4 linked regions of the Homo sapiens genome follow. The gene in region 2 interacts genetically with the main gene of each other region. Each region holds a gene or a part of one and is shown on either strand. Other genes may lie near its edges.

Evidence for each region. A genetic interaction does not mean that the proteins touch.
Region 1: changes in MED24 (region 2) and MICOS10-NBL1 together harm fitness more than expected from each alone (negative genetic interaction), as found in Homo sapiens cells (one large-scale study listed by BioGRID).
Region 3: changes in MED24 (region 2) and NDUFB2 together harm fitness more than expected from each alone (negative genetic interaction), as found in Homo sapiens cells (one large-scale study listed by BioGRID).
Region 4: changes in MED24 (region 2) and MRPL42 together harm fitness more than expected from each alone (negative genetic interaction), as found in Homo sapiens cells (one large-scale study listed by BioGRID).

The regions. Positions count from the first base shown.
Region 1 is NC_000001.11:19,603,479-19,606,978, reverse strand, and holds part of MICOS10-NBL1 (neuroblastoma suppressor of tumorigenicity 1 isoform a precursor), read right to left. Parts: intron 1-3,500. UniProt on the Homo sapiens protein: Possible candidate as a tumor suppressor gene of neuroblastoma. May play an important role in preventing cells from entering the final stage (G1/S) of the transformation process.
Region 2 is NC_000017.11:40,044,409-40,047,908, reverse strand, and holds part of MED24 (mediator of RNA polymerase II transcription subunit 24), read left to right. Parts: intron 1-3,500. UniProt on the Homo sapiens protein: Component of the Mediator complex, a coactivator involved in the regulated transcription of nearly all RNA polymerase II-dependent genes.
Region 3 is NC_000007.14:140,703,208-140,706,707, reverse strand, and holds the end of NDUFB2 (NADH dehydrogenase [ubiquinone] 1 beta subcomplex subunit 2, mitochondrial precursor), read right to left. Parts: intron 1,849-3,500; coding exon 1,774-1,848; 3' UTR 1,745-1,773; intron 146-1,744; 3' UTR 65-145; downstream 1-64. UniProt on the Homo sapiens protein: Accessory subunit of the mitochondrial membrane respiratory chain NADH dehydrogenase (Complex I), that is believed not to be involved in catalysis. Complex I functions in the transfer of electrons from NADH to the respiratory chain.
Region 4 is NC_000012.12:93,481,014-93,484,513, reverse strand, and holds part of MRPL42 (large ribosomal subunit protein mL42 precursor), read right to left. Parts: intron 1-3,500.

The DNA.
Region 1 (3,500 bases), on a different chromosome or scaffold from region 2:
ATCTATCAGATGAACTGATACTTAAAGAAAAACAATAATTTGCTTTCTTTTTCCATGACTATTCAATGGCCTCTTTTAGTATTTTTTTAAACATTAAAATGGCTTCAAACAATTTAACTAGACTTGATTATTGAATGAATACACAAAATCTGCTGGTTAACTTTAATTCTAAGGCAAGTCAGCTTCTAAGTCTTTTACTGTCCTACTTTTTTTCTTTCTTTTTTTTTTTGGAGACAGAGCCTTCTTGTTCTGTCGCCCAGGTTGGAGTGCAATGGCCTGATCTTGGCTCACTGCAACCTCACCTTCCCAGGTTCAAGTGATTCTCCTGCCTCAGCCTCCTGAGTAGCTGGGATTACAGGCATGCGCCACCACACTCAGCCAATTTTTATATTTTTAGTAGAGATGGGGTTTCACCATATTGGCCAGGCTGGTCTCAAACTCCTGACCTCAGGTGACCCACCCTCCTCAGCCTCCCAAAGCGCTGGGATTACAGGTGTGAGCCACCGTGCCCAGCCCTGGCCATACTTTCGTAACAAGGAAGAAGCAAGGCCGAATCCTTTCTTTTCATAAAGATGAATGCATGATAAACCAATAACTTTCATCTGTTAACTGAGCTGCATATAATTAGAGACCTATCTCAAGACATACTAGAAATTAAGAAACTACAAAATGTTATTCCCCTCTCTGCCTCTCCTATTTGTCAAAAGCAACACCATGCTCATTTATGTAGGCTTGGCACCACCTGACTCCTCCCACTCCTGAGCCTGCATTTCAAGTTCTGTAAATATAAACTCTGTACTAGCATCATTATATCTCTCTTTTCCACTCCTGCTGCTCCCCTCTTAGTTCATGCTTCCTCTCATTTGATCAGCTCATCTTTGGCAAGATTTTGCAATAATATACTAAGCTAGCTCCCTGCCCCCACATCCTAGCACTCCAGAGAGTTATTCATTCTCATCACATCAGTGATCTTTCTGAAATCAGAAATTCAACCACGTCACTTTTCAGCTTACCATTCAATGAATTTCTTCGAATGCTAAACATAGAATTGCCACACAACCAAGCAATTCCACTCCTAGGTATATATCCAAGAGAGATGAAAACATGTCCACATAAAAACTGGGGGGCTGAGCACCATGGCATGCACCTGTAATCCAAGCTACTCAGGAGGCTGAGGCAGGAGGATCACTTGAGCCCAGGAATTTGAGACCAGCCTGGGCAAAACAGACCCCATCTCAAAACAAAACAAAAATGTGTACACTTGATCACAGCAGCATTATTCATAAAATTTAAAAGCGTAAACAAACTAAATGTCCACCAACTGACAAATGGATAAACAAGATGTAGTACAAATACACCACACAACATTATTTGGTAACAAAAAAGAATGATGAACAGATAAATGCAACAGCATGGATGAATACTGAAAACACTACCTAAGTCAAAGAAGCCGATACAAAAGACTACATATTATATAACTCTTTATGTAAAATGTCCAGCATAGGAGACTCCACAGAGACAAAAAGTAAATTGGTGGTTGCCTGGGGCTAAGGTTGGGGTGAGAGTTTGGGAATAGGAGCAGCTGCATCCAGTGTTTCTTTTGGGGGAAGCTAAAAATATTCTAAAATTAGATTGTGATAATTGCACAATTTGGTGAAAAAACTAAAATTGTACACTTTAAATAGGAAAATGTATGCCATGAAATATATCTCAACAAAGTAGTTTAAAAAATCTCCACAACTTCCTACACCCTTCCACCTTTCCTGCCTCATCTTTTGTCCCTCCCCACATAAATCCTTTAACCCCAAAGGATAAAATCTCCTGCATTAACATGTGATAGCTACAAGAATGGGGTTCACCTTCCTACCCTTGCAGCTGTAGCCTGTGATCCTAAAGGAGGGATTCTGCCACCATGAGCTTCCATTGTAAAAATGGAGAAATATCTTACAAGGATATGAGATAATGATGTAAAATATAACATGCTCAGCACCGTGCCTGGCATGCGGTTAAGTGCTCAATAAGTGATGGTCATTCTCATCATTCCCAGAAGGAACCAAAGTATCCCTCTCCTTTGGGACACCTTCAAGGAGTGAAACACACTCCCCCACCTGGTCCACCTATTAAATATCTGCATATTTTCCAAAATGGGGGTCAAATGTCCCTCATCCTTTTCACATTCCTCAAGGCAGTAAGCCCCTCGAGGGTAGGGCCAGTGCCTATTCACCTGTGTGCCACCCCCTGCCAAGGCTTACCACAATACCTGGTACTAAATTGTTTCAAGAAGTACACATTAATGATTACTATTACATATATAAACATGAATATTGATTATCAGACCTACAATAGCCACGACCCACAATAAGACCCACCTACGACCCACAATAGCCAAGATCAGGGTAAATGTGTTAATCATTTTAACTCTTTTACCTCTACTCTTCAGCGACAGCCTCCAGTTTTTATTTATTTATTTGAGACCAAGTCTCACTCTGTTGCCCAGGCTGGAGTGCAGTGGCTGCATCTTAGCTCACTGCAACTTGCTACTCCCGGGTTCCAGCGATTCTCATGCCTCAGCTTCTCGAGTAGCTGGGACTACAGGTGCGTACCACCACACCTGGCTAATTTTTTGTATGTCTAGTAGAGACTGGGTTTCACCATTGTTGGCCAGGCTGGTCTCAAACTCCTGGCCTCAAGCGATCCACCCACCTCAGCCTCCCAAAGTGTTGGGACTATAGGCATGAGCCACCACACTCAGCCTCCAGTTAATAATATTTAGTAAGTACAGGCAACGTCCTAACTGCTCTAGAGATTATCTCATTTTATCCTCACTTGCAACTACCCTCTGGGGCAAGTACTATCATTTTATAGATAAGAAAACTGAGGCTGGGAGGTATTTACTGGTACATTTATTTTGAATGAAAAAAATGAGGAAAAGAAAAACAAAATGACTGTGTATGCCACTACAGTTCACTGAATTGAATACATTCTAGGGGCTCCTTGTAAATGTCCATGGCTTGCCTTTTTTCTTGCTACTAACGGAAATCACTGTTGTGCTTGACACACCTGGCTTGCCAGGACAGTCTTTTCCAGGAAACTCTCCAGCTTTGGGACCTCTCCCTCCACCATGACATCTCCTCCCTGCCTTCATCCCAGCCAGCCCTCTGATTCATTCTCATCAATGATTTTTCTGAAATCAAAAATTCAACCATGTCACTCTTCAGCTAACCATTCAATGAATTTCTTCAAATGCTAAAATACAGAGTTGCCATACAACCTGACTTCTATTAGAATAAACTAGAATTCTAAACCAATACATGGATTAGTAAGACTAGATATTCCTTACTCTGGTCTCACATTGGAGCAAAACAAAGAGAAAAGGGACACAGCCAATTTTAAAGCTATCCAAGTCACACTAGGGATTCCCAGGACCTCCGTATGAATCCAGGAAGTGCCAGAATCAGATTTTCCTCAAAGCGTCCTCTGGCAAATCCATAGTCTGAGGA
Region 2 (3,500 bases):
AATATACAAAAATTAGCCGGGCATGGTGGTGGGCGTCTGTAATCCCAGCTACTCAGGAGGCTGAAGCAGGAGAATTGCTTGAACCTGGGAGGCGGAGGTTGCAGTGAACCGAGATTGCGCCATTGTGCTCCAGCCTGGGCAACGAGCAAAACTTCGTCTCAGAACATACAAACATCTTAAGATCAATTCAGTCAGGGTTTTTTTTTTGTTGTTGTTTTTTGTTTTTTGTTTTTTTGTTTTTTTTTATGAGATGGAGTCTCGCTCTGTTGCCTGGGCTGGAGTGCAGTAGGGCAATCTCAGCTCACTGCAACCTCCGCCTCCCAGGTCCAAGCTATTCTCCTGCCTCAGCCTCCGGAGTAGCTGGGATTACAGGTGTCCTCCACCACGCCTGGCCAGTTTTTTTGTATTTTTAGTAGAGACGGGGTTTCACCATGTTGGTCAGGCTGGTCTCGAACTCCTGACCTCGTGATCCACCTGCCTTAGCCTCCCAAAGTGCTGGGATTACAGGCATGAGCCACCACGCCTGGCCTATTTAGTGAGTTTTAGCAATTGTATGTACCCATGTCACCAGCATCCAAAATAAGATACAGAGCATTTCTGTTCTCTCAGAAAGTTCCCTTTTACCGCTTTCTAGTCCACTCCCCTCTCCCACAATTGCCTTTATTTGGATTTCTTAGTAATGTAGTCAGATGGGATATAGTTCGTATACTGTCTTTTGTTTAACATAAATGTTTTTGAGATTTATTATTTATGTTGTATATGTTAATAGTACATTCTTTTTATTTATTTTTTTAAATTTGAAACAGGGTCTTGCTCTGTTACCCAGGCTGGAGTGTGCAATGGCAGGATCACAGCTTCCTGTAGCCTCATCCTTCTGGGCTCAAGTAATCCTCCTACCTCAGGTTCCCAAGGAGTTGGGACTACAGTCATGCACCACCATGCCTGGCTAATTTTTAAATTTTTTTGTAAAGATGGGATCTTCCTATGTTGCCCAGGCTGATAATTTTTACATTTTTGTAGGGACGGGGTCTCCCTTTGTTGCCCAGGCTGGTATCAAACTCCTGGGCTCAAGCGATCCTCCTGCCTTGGCCTCCCAAAGTGCTGTGATTACAGGTGTGATCCACCCATGCCTGGCCTCATTCTTCTTCTTCTTGTTTTTTTTTGAGACGGAGTCTCGCTCTGTCGCCCAGGCTGGAGTGCAGTGGCGGGATCTCGGCTCACTGCAAGCTCCGCCTCCCGGGTTCACGCCATTCTCCTGCCTCAGCCTCCCAAGTAGCTGGGACTACAGGCGCCCGCCACTACGCCCGGCTAATTTTTTGTATTTTTTAGTAGAGACGGGGTTTCACCGTTTTAGCCGGGATGGTCTCGATCTCCTGACCTCATGATCCGCCCGCCTCGGCCTCCCAAAGTGCTGGGATTACAGGCGTGAGCCACCGCGCCCGGCCTTTTCTTCTTATTTTTTAACTGCTGAATAGTATTTCTCAGTTGACACATATATATTTTTTTTTATTAAAAATTTTTTTAGGCTGGGCGCAGTGGATCATGCCTGTAATCCCAGGAACTTTGGGAGGCCGAGGCGGGCGGATCACGAGGTCAGGAGATCGAGACCATCCTGGCTAACATGGTGAAACCCCGTCTCTACTGAAAATACAAAAAATTAGCCGGGCGTGGTGGCGGGTGCCTATAGTCCCAGCTACTCGGGAGGCTGAGGCAGGAGAATGGCGTGAACCCGGGAGGCGGAGCTTGCAGTGAGCAGAGATCGCGCCACTGCGCTCCAGCCTGGGCAACAGTGAGACTCCGTCTCAAAAAAAAAAAAAAAAATTTTTTTTAGAGGCTGGGCGTGATGGCTCACGCCTGTAATCCCAGCACTTTGGGAGGCCGAGGCGGGTGGATCATGAGGTCAGGAGACCGAGACCATCCTGGCCAACATGGTGAAACCCCATCTCTACTAAAAATACAAAAAATTACCTGGGTGTGGTGGCATGCACGTGTAGTCCCAGCTACTCGGGAGGCTGAGGCAGGAGAATCACTTGAACCCAGGAGGCGGAGGTTGGAGTGAGCCAAGATCGAACCACTGTACTCCAGCCTGGTTGACAGAGCGAGACTCTGTCTCAAAAAAAACAAAATGTGTAGAGTCAGGATCCTTGCTTTGTTGCCCAGGCTGGAGTGCAGTGGCACAATAGTGGCTCACTGCAGCTTTGACCTCCTTGGCTCAAGCCATCCTCCTGCACCTGTAGCTTGGACTACAGGTGCGCACCAAAACACCCGGCCAATTTTTGCATTTTGTGTAGAGACACGGTTTCGCCATGTTGCTCAGGCTCATCTTGAACTCTTGAGCTCAATCTACCCACCTTGGCCTCCCAGAGTGTTGGGATTATAGGCGTGAGCCATGGAGCTCACCCCTAAACCACTGCTACATAATATTCCATATGTACTTTTTTTTTTTTTTTTGAGATGAAGTCTTGCTCTGTCGCCCAGGCTGGAGAGCAGTGGCACGATCTTGGCTCACTGCAACCTCCTCCTGTCCCCGCCGCTGGGTTCAAGTGATTCTCCTGCCTCAGCCTCCCAAGTAGCTGGGATTACAGGCATGTACCACCACACCTGGCCCATTTTTTTATTTTTAGTAGAGACAGGGTTTCATCATGTTGGCCAGGCTGGTCTCAAACTCCTGACCTCAAGTGATCTGCCCGCCTCGGCCTCCCAAAGTGCTGGGATCACAGGCGTGAGCCACTGTGCCTGGCCCAGCCCATATGTACTTTAATTTAGGTTGTTTGTAATTTTTTACTGTTATAATCAATGTTTCACTGAATATCCTTATACCTACCTGTCTGCATATCTGGAAGTATTTCTCTAGGGTGGATACCTCACAATGGAATATCTGATTTGAAGAATATACACATACTAAATTATAGTAGATCCTGCAAATTTCCCCCTGAAAATGATTGGATTAGGTTATACCCCATCCGTAATGTCTGACAGTATTTCCCCATACCTTTGCCAACGCTGGATATAATTTTTTTTTTTTTTTTTGAGATGGAGTCTCGCTGTGTCGCCCAGGCTGGAGTGCAGTGGTGCAATCTTGGCTCACTGCAAGCTGCACCTCCTGGATTCACGCCATTCTCCTGCCTCAGCCTCCCAAGTAGCTGGGACTACAGGTGCCCACGACCACGCCTGGCTAATTTTTGTATTTTTAGTAGAGATGCGTTTCATCTTGTTAGCCAGGATGGTCTCGATCTCCTGACCTCGTGATCCGCCCACCTCGGCCTCCCAAAGTGCTGAGATTATAGGCGTGAGCCACCGCGCCTGGCCAGAATCTTTTAAAACTTTTTCCAGAGGCAAATAATTATATCATATTATAATGTGCATTTTCTTTTCTTTCTTTTTTTTTTGAGATGGAGTCTCCCTCTGTCGCCCAGGCTGGAGTGTAGTGGCATAATCTTGGCTCACTGCAACCTCTGCCTCCCGGGTTCAAGCAATTCTCCTGCCTCAGCCTCCCGAGT
Region 3 (3,500 bases), on a different chromosome or scaffold from region 2:
CCCCCCTCCCACCACCTCTCCACCACCCCACCCCCCCCCAAAAAAAAGATCCACAACTCCATTCTCATTCTTGACCAAGCCACTTTAATTTGTAACTTTAATGTGCAATATGAAGTCGATAATCCTTGAAATTCTCACCTGGCTCCTGCAGGAAAACAAAAGTAGAAAGCTTTAAGTACTTTTATATTCACTAATTCAAATCCATAATTCATTTATTCAATTATTCAAGTATTTATTGAGCACTGATCATGTGACAGCCTTGTAGACAAGAGAAGCAAAATCACCCTTCCTCTCTCAAGGGTTTACAGTCCAGTCATTAAAACAAATTTGTTGGCCAGGTACACTGGCTCACACCTGTAATCCCAACACTTTGGGAAGCCAAGAGGTGGATCACTTGAGTCCAAGAATTTGAGATCAGCCTGGGCAACATGGCAAAACCTCATCTCTACAAAATATACAAAAATTAGCCAAGAGTAGTAGTCCCAGCTACTGAGAAGGCTGAGGCGGGAGAATCACTTGAGCTCAGGAGGTTGGGGTTACAGTGAGCCATGATCACGCTGCACTCCAGTCTGGATGACAGAATGAGACCCTGTCTCAAATAACATAACATAACATAACATAACATAACATAACATAACATAACATAAAACATAACATAACATAACATAACATAACAAACTAAAATAAAATAAAATAAAATAAAATATAAAATAAAAGCATGTTAAATAAAAACATATTAACCCCTAGGGGTTTATGAGGAAAGGGAACCTTCTTAGTACCTCCCTTTTTAAAGAAGAAAAATTCTTGACTTCCTGACCTGGAAAATGAAAAAGCCATAACCCTTTACTGTTTAAAGAGTTAGTTTTCATATAGTTCTATATAGTAATACTCCCATATGCTGGATCTATTTAAATGTTGAGAGCAGGACACTGTAGTTTTGCAGCTACGTACTGTAAGCTCCATCTGTCCTGTTCACCACTGTAGGCCTGTGCTTGGCACAGAATTGGTCTTAATATATCTTTGATCAGTGGATGGATAAATGAAACCCTAAAATTATAACCTAACTTAGGAAAAAAATTTTTTTTTATTATACAATGGGCCAGGTGTGGTGGCACATGCCTGTAATCCCAGCACTTTGGGAGGCAGAGGCAGGAGAATCATTTGAGCCCAGGAGTTCAAGACCAGCCTGGGCAACATAGTGACACCCTGTCTCTACAAAATAAAAAATGTAAATAAAATAAAACATACAATGAAAAGGAAGAAGAGACCAAAGCAAATGTGAAAACTTAAGGCAGAAATCAGATACATGGCCAGGCGTGGTGGCTCACACCTGTAATCCTAGCACTTTGGGAGTCTGAGGTGGGCAGATCACTTGAGGTCAGAAGTTCGAGACCAGCCTGGCCAACGTGGCAAAACTCTGCCTCTACTAAAAATACAAAAATTAGCCAAGTGTGGTAGCATGTGCCTATAATCCCAGCTACTCAGGAGGCTGAGGAAGGAGAATCACTTGAACCTGGAAGGCAGAGGTTGCAGTGAGCCCAGATCACGCCACTGCACTCCAGTCTGGGCGACAGAGCAAGACTCTGTCTCAAAAAAAAAAAAAAAAGCAGATACAGGACATGGTTAACTCAACTTCATGCTGTTAGAATATGCAGTTTTTTCAAGTCCATCATAGGCACAAAGTAAAAACTAATGTTTATGAAAAAAGGTAAATATGACATAAAGAAATTTGGAGCACACCCACTTGTACAGAGTGAGGCTGAGTCTACACCTTCAGTCTTCATCATCAGGAGGGATACCTAATTCTTCATCTGTCCACTGGGAAGGATCAGGATACGGAAAGTGACCCTGGTGACAACCATTTAAAAGAAAGAAAAGTCAAGAATTTACATTCTGTGCAACTAATTAAATTGTTAAATAAATCTTGGAAAGAAAAAAAAAAAAACAATATGGCTCAGCCCCTGACCACAGGAACAAATTCTACTTTAATTATTCGATGGCCCACCTGTTCTTTAGTTTGTTCATTATATGGGCTCTGGTCTGAATTTTAAAAGCCTCCCCATTTGGAGGTACCAGCCTAAGCCAATGGTACGTGTCTGTGATAGAGGGAGGGTAGGGGGAAGTGGAGGCAATAGGTTTCAAAGGTTCCTGACATCCTGGCAAAGTCCTGGCAAAATATGTTTCCAACTCTCCTAACATTACTGCTGTGAAATGGAGAAGCCTCAGGTGGACTTCCTCATCTCCAATCCTGATCTAAGGGCTTATCTGGCTGCATCATCATCATCTCAGGCCTAACAGCTATACATACTGTACATACTCCGGACAGCTGACCTACAGTGAGGCAGGGGCACCTCAAATAGTAAATGTGTGGACAGTTCACAGACACCCAGGCAGCTCCTTACTGAAGGACAACGGCACAGAGAAGTTCTAAGAGAAATGGGATATGAAGCAACCTGATGCTTCTAAAACTTACATACTGCTTAAGATTTTTTTCCTATCCTGGAAACAAACCCAAATTTACTACAACTCAAAGTATCCTGGATAAACAAGCACAGATTTCAATGTCTTAAAGACGTAATTTCCCAAAGAACGGTCTGCAAATGTGGTAAAACCTCAGTTGAGGCTAATGATATGTTAGAAAATCACTAAAACTGGCCGGGCGCAGTGGCTCACGCCTGTAATCCCAGCACTTTGGGAGGCCAAGGCAGGTGGATCATGAGGTCAGGAGATCGAGACCATCCTGGCTAACACGGTGAAACCCCGTCTCTACTAAAAATATAAAAAATTAGCCGGGAGTGGTGGCGGGCACCTGCAGTCCCAGCTACTTGGGAGGCTGAGGCAAGAGAATGGCGTGAACCCAGGAGGCGGAGCTTGCAGTGAGCCAAGATCGCACCACTGCACTCCAGCCTGGGTGACAGAGTGAGACTCCATCTCAAAAATAAATAAATAAAATAGAAAATCACTAAAACTAACTTCCCTTCTCAAGACAAATTAACTCACATCCATCCCACCCAAACCTGGCTGCCCTGGGCCTCTGGACAGACCAGAAGACATTCATCATTTAAAGGAATTTAAGTGTGAAACCTAACCTACCAATGAACCGCTAGTTCAGAAGGTAAAAGAATTCATTTCTGGCCAGGCGCGGTGGCTCACGCCTGTGATCCCAGCACTCTGGGAGGCTGAGTCAGGTGGATCACTTGAGGTCAGGAGTTTGAGAGCAGCCTGACCAACATGGTGAAACCCCGTCTCTACTAACAACAAAAAAAATTAGCCGGCGTGGGGGTGCACACCTGTAGTCCCAGCTACTCAAGGGACTGAGGCACCAGAGTCACTTGAACCCGGGATGCAGAGGTTGCAGCGAGCCGAGATTGTGCCACTGCACTCCTGCCTGGTGACAGAGTGAAACTGTGTCTCAAAAAAAAAAAAAAAAAAAATGAGCTTTTAGTCTCCCTAAGATGGCAACCTAACAGAAACCATAAGAAACGGACCACCTAAATATA
Region 4 (3,500 bases), on a different chromosome or scaffold from region 2:
AGTGATGGTGCAGAACGCCATAGTGCAATGCATTGCTTACATGTTTGTGGTGGTGCCAATGTAAACAAACCAACTGCACTGCCAGCTGTATAAAAGTATAGCACATACAATTATGTATAGCACATAATACTTGATAATAATAATAAATAACGGCAGGCTACAGTGGCTCATGGCTGTAATTCCAGCACTTTGTGAGGCTTGAGCTCAGGAGTTCAAAACCAGCCAGAGTAACATGTAGTGAGACCCCGTCTCAACCAAAATAATTAAATAATAAAAATAATAATAAATGACTAGGCAACTGGTTTATGCATTTACTATACTATATACTTTTTATCATTATTTTAGAGCGTACTCCTACTTGTTAAAAAAAAGTCAATTGTAAAACAGCCTCAGGCAAGCCCCTCAGGAGGTATTCCAGAAGAAGACACTGTTATCATAGGAGATGACAGCTCCAGGCATGTTACTGTACCTGAAGACCTTCCAGTGGGACAAAATGTGGAGGTAGAAGACAGTAATATTGATCATCCTGACCCTGTGTGGGCCTAGACTGTGTTTGTGTCTTAGTTCTCACAAAAAAAGTTTAAAAAGTGCAAACAAAAATTTTAATACAAAAAAGCTTATAGAATAAGGATATAAAGAAAATATTTTTGTATAGCTGTACACGATATTTTAAGCTAAGTGTTATTACAAAAGAGTAAAAAAGTATTAAATTTTTTTTAAGTTTATTAAGTTTAAAAGTGACAGTAACCTAAGGTTAATTTATTATTAAAGAAAGAAAAATATTTTTTTAAAAATTTGGTGTAGCCTAAGCATACAGTGTTTGTTTATAAAGTATACAGCAGTGTACAGTAATGTACTAGGCCTTTACACTCACTGACTCACCCAGGGCAACTTCCAGTCCTATAAGCTCCATTTTTGGTTAAGTACCCTATACAGGTATATTACATTTTATCTTTTATAGCACATTTTTATTGTGCCTTTTCTATGTTTAAATACGTTTAGATACATAAATATTGACCATTGTGTTACAATTGCCTATAGTATTCACTACAGTAATATGCTGTATACGTTTGCAGCCTGGGAGCAATAGGCTATACCATAAAGTCTGGGTGTGTAGTAGGCTACACCATCTAGGTTTGCGTAAGTGACACTCTATGATGTTCACGTAACAATGAAATTGCCTAACAATGCATTTCTCAGAACATATCCCCATCAGTAAGCAATGCATGACTGTACTACAGAAATGCAAAGTAACAAAGATATCAGTGAAAAGTAGAAAGGGAGACAAGCCAGATCCTTGTCACAAAAACCAGAATGGGGCCAGGTGTGGTGGCTCATGCCTGGTAATCCCAGCACTTTGGGAGGCCAAGGCAGGCAGATCACTTGAGGCCAGGAGTTAGAGACCAGCCTGGCCAACATGGCGAAACCCCCTCTCCACTGAAAATACAAAAATTAGCCAGGCGTGGTCACGAGTGCCTGTAATCCCAGCTATTTGGGTGGCTGAGGCATAAGAATCGCTTGAACCTGGGGAGGCATGGAGGTTGCAATGAGACAAGATCACACCACTGCATTCTAGCCTGGTTGACAGAGTGAGACTCTGTCTCAAAAAAAAAAAAAGAACCAGATTGGGCAAGGTACAGTGGCTCATGCTTGTAAGCCCGGCACTTTGGGAAGCCAAGGTGAGAGGACTGCTTGAGTCCAGGAATTCAAGATCAGTTTGGACAACATAGTGAGACCCTGTCTCTACAAAAATTTAAAAAATTAGCTGGGCATGGTGGTGTGTGCCTATAGTCCAAGCTACTCATGAGGCTAAAGTGGGAGGATTGCTTGAGCCCATGTTACTATTATTCTACTAATAGTAACATGTTCTCAAGAGTGTTTCTTATTTTGCAGCCCAATCTACAATTTATTGCTTGACAAACAAAAACTTTCCATGCTTTCTGATGTGAATGTCTCTTAGCCCTAAAACAAAAAACCCTTAAGCATGAAGAGGAAGGAACAACTTCATTCACTTAATAGAAAAATATTTATTGTGCACCTACCAAGTTCAAAGCGTTATTCCAGGTGCTGAAGACCAAGCAGGGGAAAAAAACACACAAGGCCCTGTCCTCATCAAGCTTACATTTTAGTGATGGGAGATAGCCAGAAAACATCCAGTATGCTAGAAATGATAAATGCTGTTGAGAAAAGTAAATCAAAGGACAACAAGGAGTGCAGGAGCAGAGGTACAACTTTAAATGCAGTAGCCAAGGAAGGCCACACAAGATAACAAATAAGGAAAAAGACCTTAAGGAAAGAGAGTAAACTATGAAGTAAAAGCATTCCAGGCAACGGAAGCAGGAAATACAAAAGCTCTGAGTGGAGAGCTCACCTAATACAGCTGAAGAACAGCTGGAGTTGTGGTCAGTATGGTGGCAGTGGGGTGATTACTTGAAAACTTGTAGGAGTGATTACTTACCTAAACTAGAGAGATGAATATTGATGATGTGGCAGAGAAGATAATTGTCAAAACAAAGGAAACACAACAAAGAAAGAGGATGCAGGGGAGGTGGTCATGTGTACAGAGGAATGATGATAATGATAAACCATGATATCAGTCTGTGCTGGGTTAAGTAGGGAGTGAGAATGTGTGAGATACATGAGGGACTGTGAAAAAGTGGTTGGATCAATCGATGTAGGTTACAAAGAGGGAATGAATAATTCTTGGAGCTGGGAGACCAAGAGGGACTGGTAGTTAACTATTGGATTTCTTAAAATTTAGACTGGGAAGGAGGAGTAGCAATTACTGGTAATTAGAATATCTCTAGGGAATCATAGGGAATCCTCCCATGGAAGTGGGTAGCTGATGTAGAGAGAGATCAAGAAGTGAGACACCATGGTATTAGATCACCTACATGGATATTGAAGTAAAAGAATGAGGGTAAAACAGTATTGGAGAAAGTGTGACAGCAAGCTTAGAATATTCAAGGAAGTGCAGAGTGGTGGAGGAGGAGAAATAACCTGGCAGTTGGTAGATAACAGCAACAAAAAAAGATAGTAAATGATGCAGTTTAATGATACAAGCTACAAAGCTAGAAATTGTTAGGAAGGAAGAGAAATGATCTAGATTTGACAGTGAAGAGCTACAGAGATACCTTCCCCATCTTTAGACCCAGTGGTAAAAGAGTATGCGAGAGAAAACAGCAACTACTTAAAAGAACTGCTGGGGAAGTAACGTCTCCAGGGTACAGGCAGGTTTCTATTAGAGTCAAAAGGTGAAGGCAACATTCTGGAATAGGCTAAGATTGTAAGAGATTTTGCCAAGGGTAGTAAGTTCTACAAGTACAGTGGGAAAGTTTTGACAGTTGAGGAGGGTCAGATTCAGAGATATAAAGAGCCATTTGGGGATAAGAGTCTGGATGCTATGAAATGACCTGGCATTCTTAGTATAATTGCTAAAACACAGCAAATAAACCGAAGATATTTAACAAAATAACAATGGACAAAGGCACAACATAGTG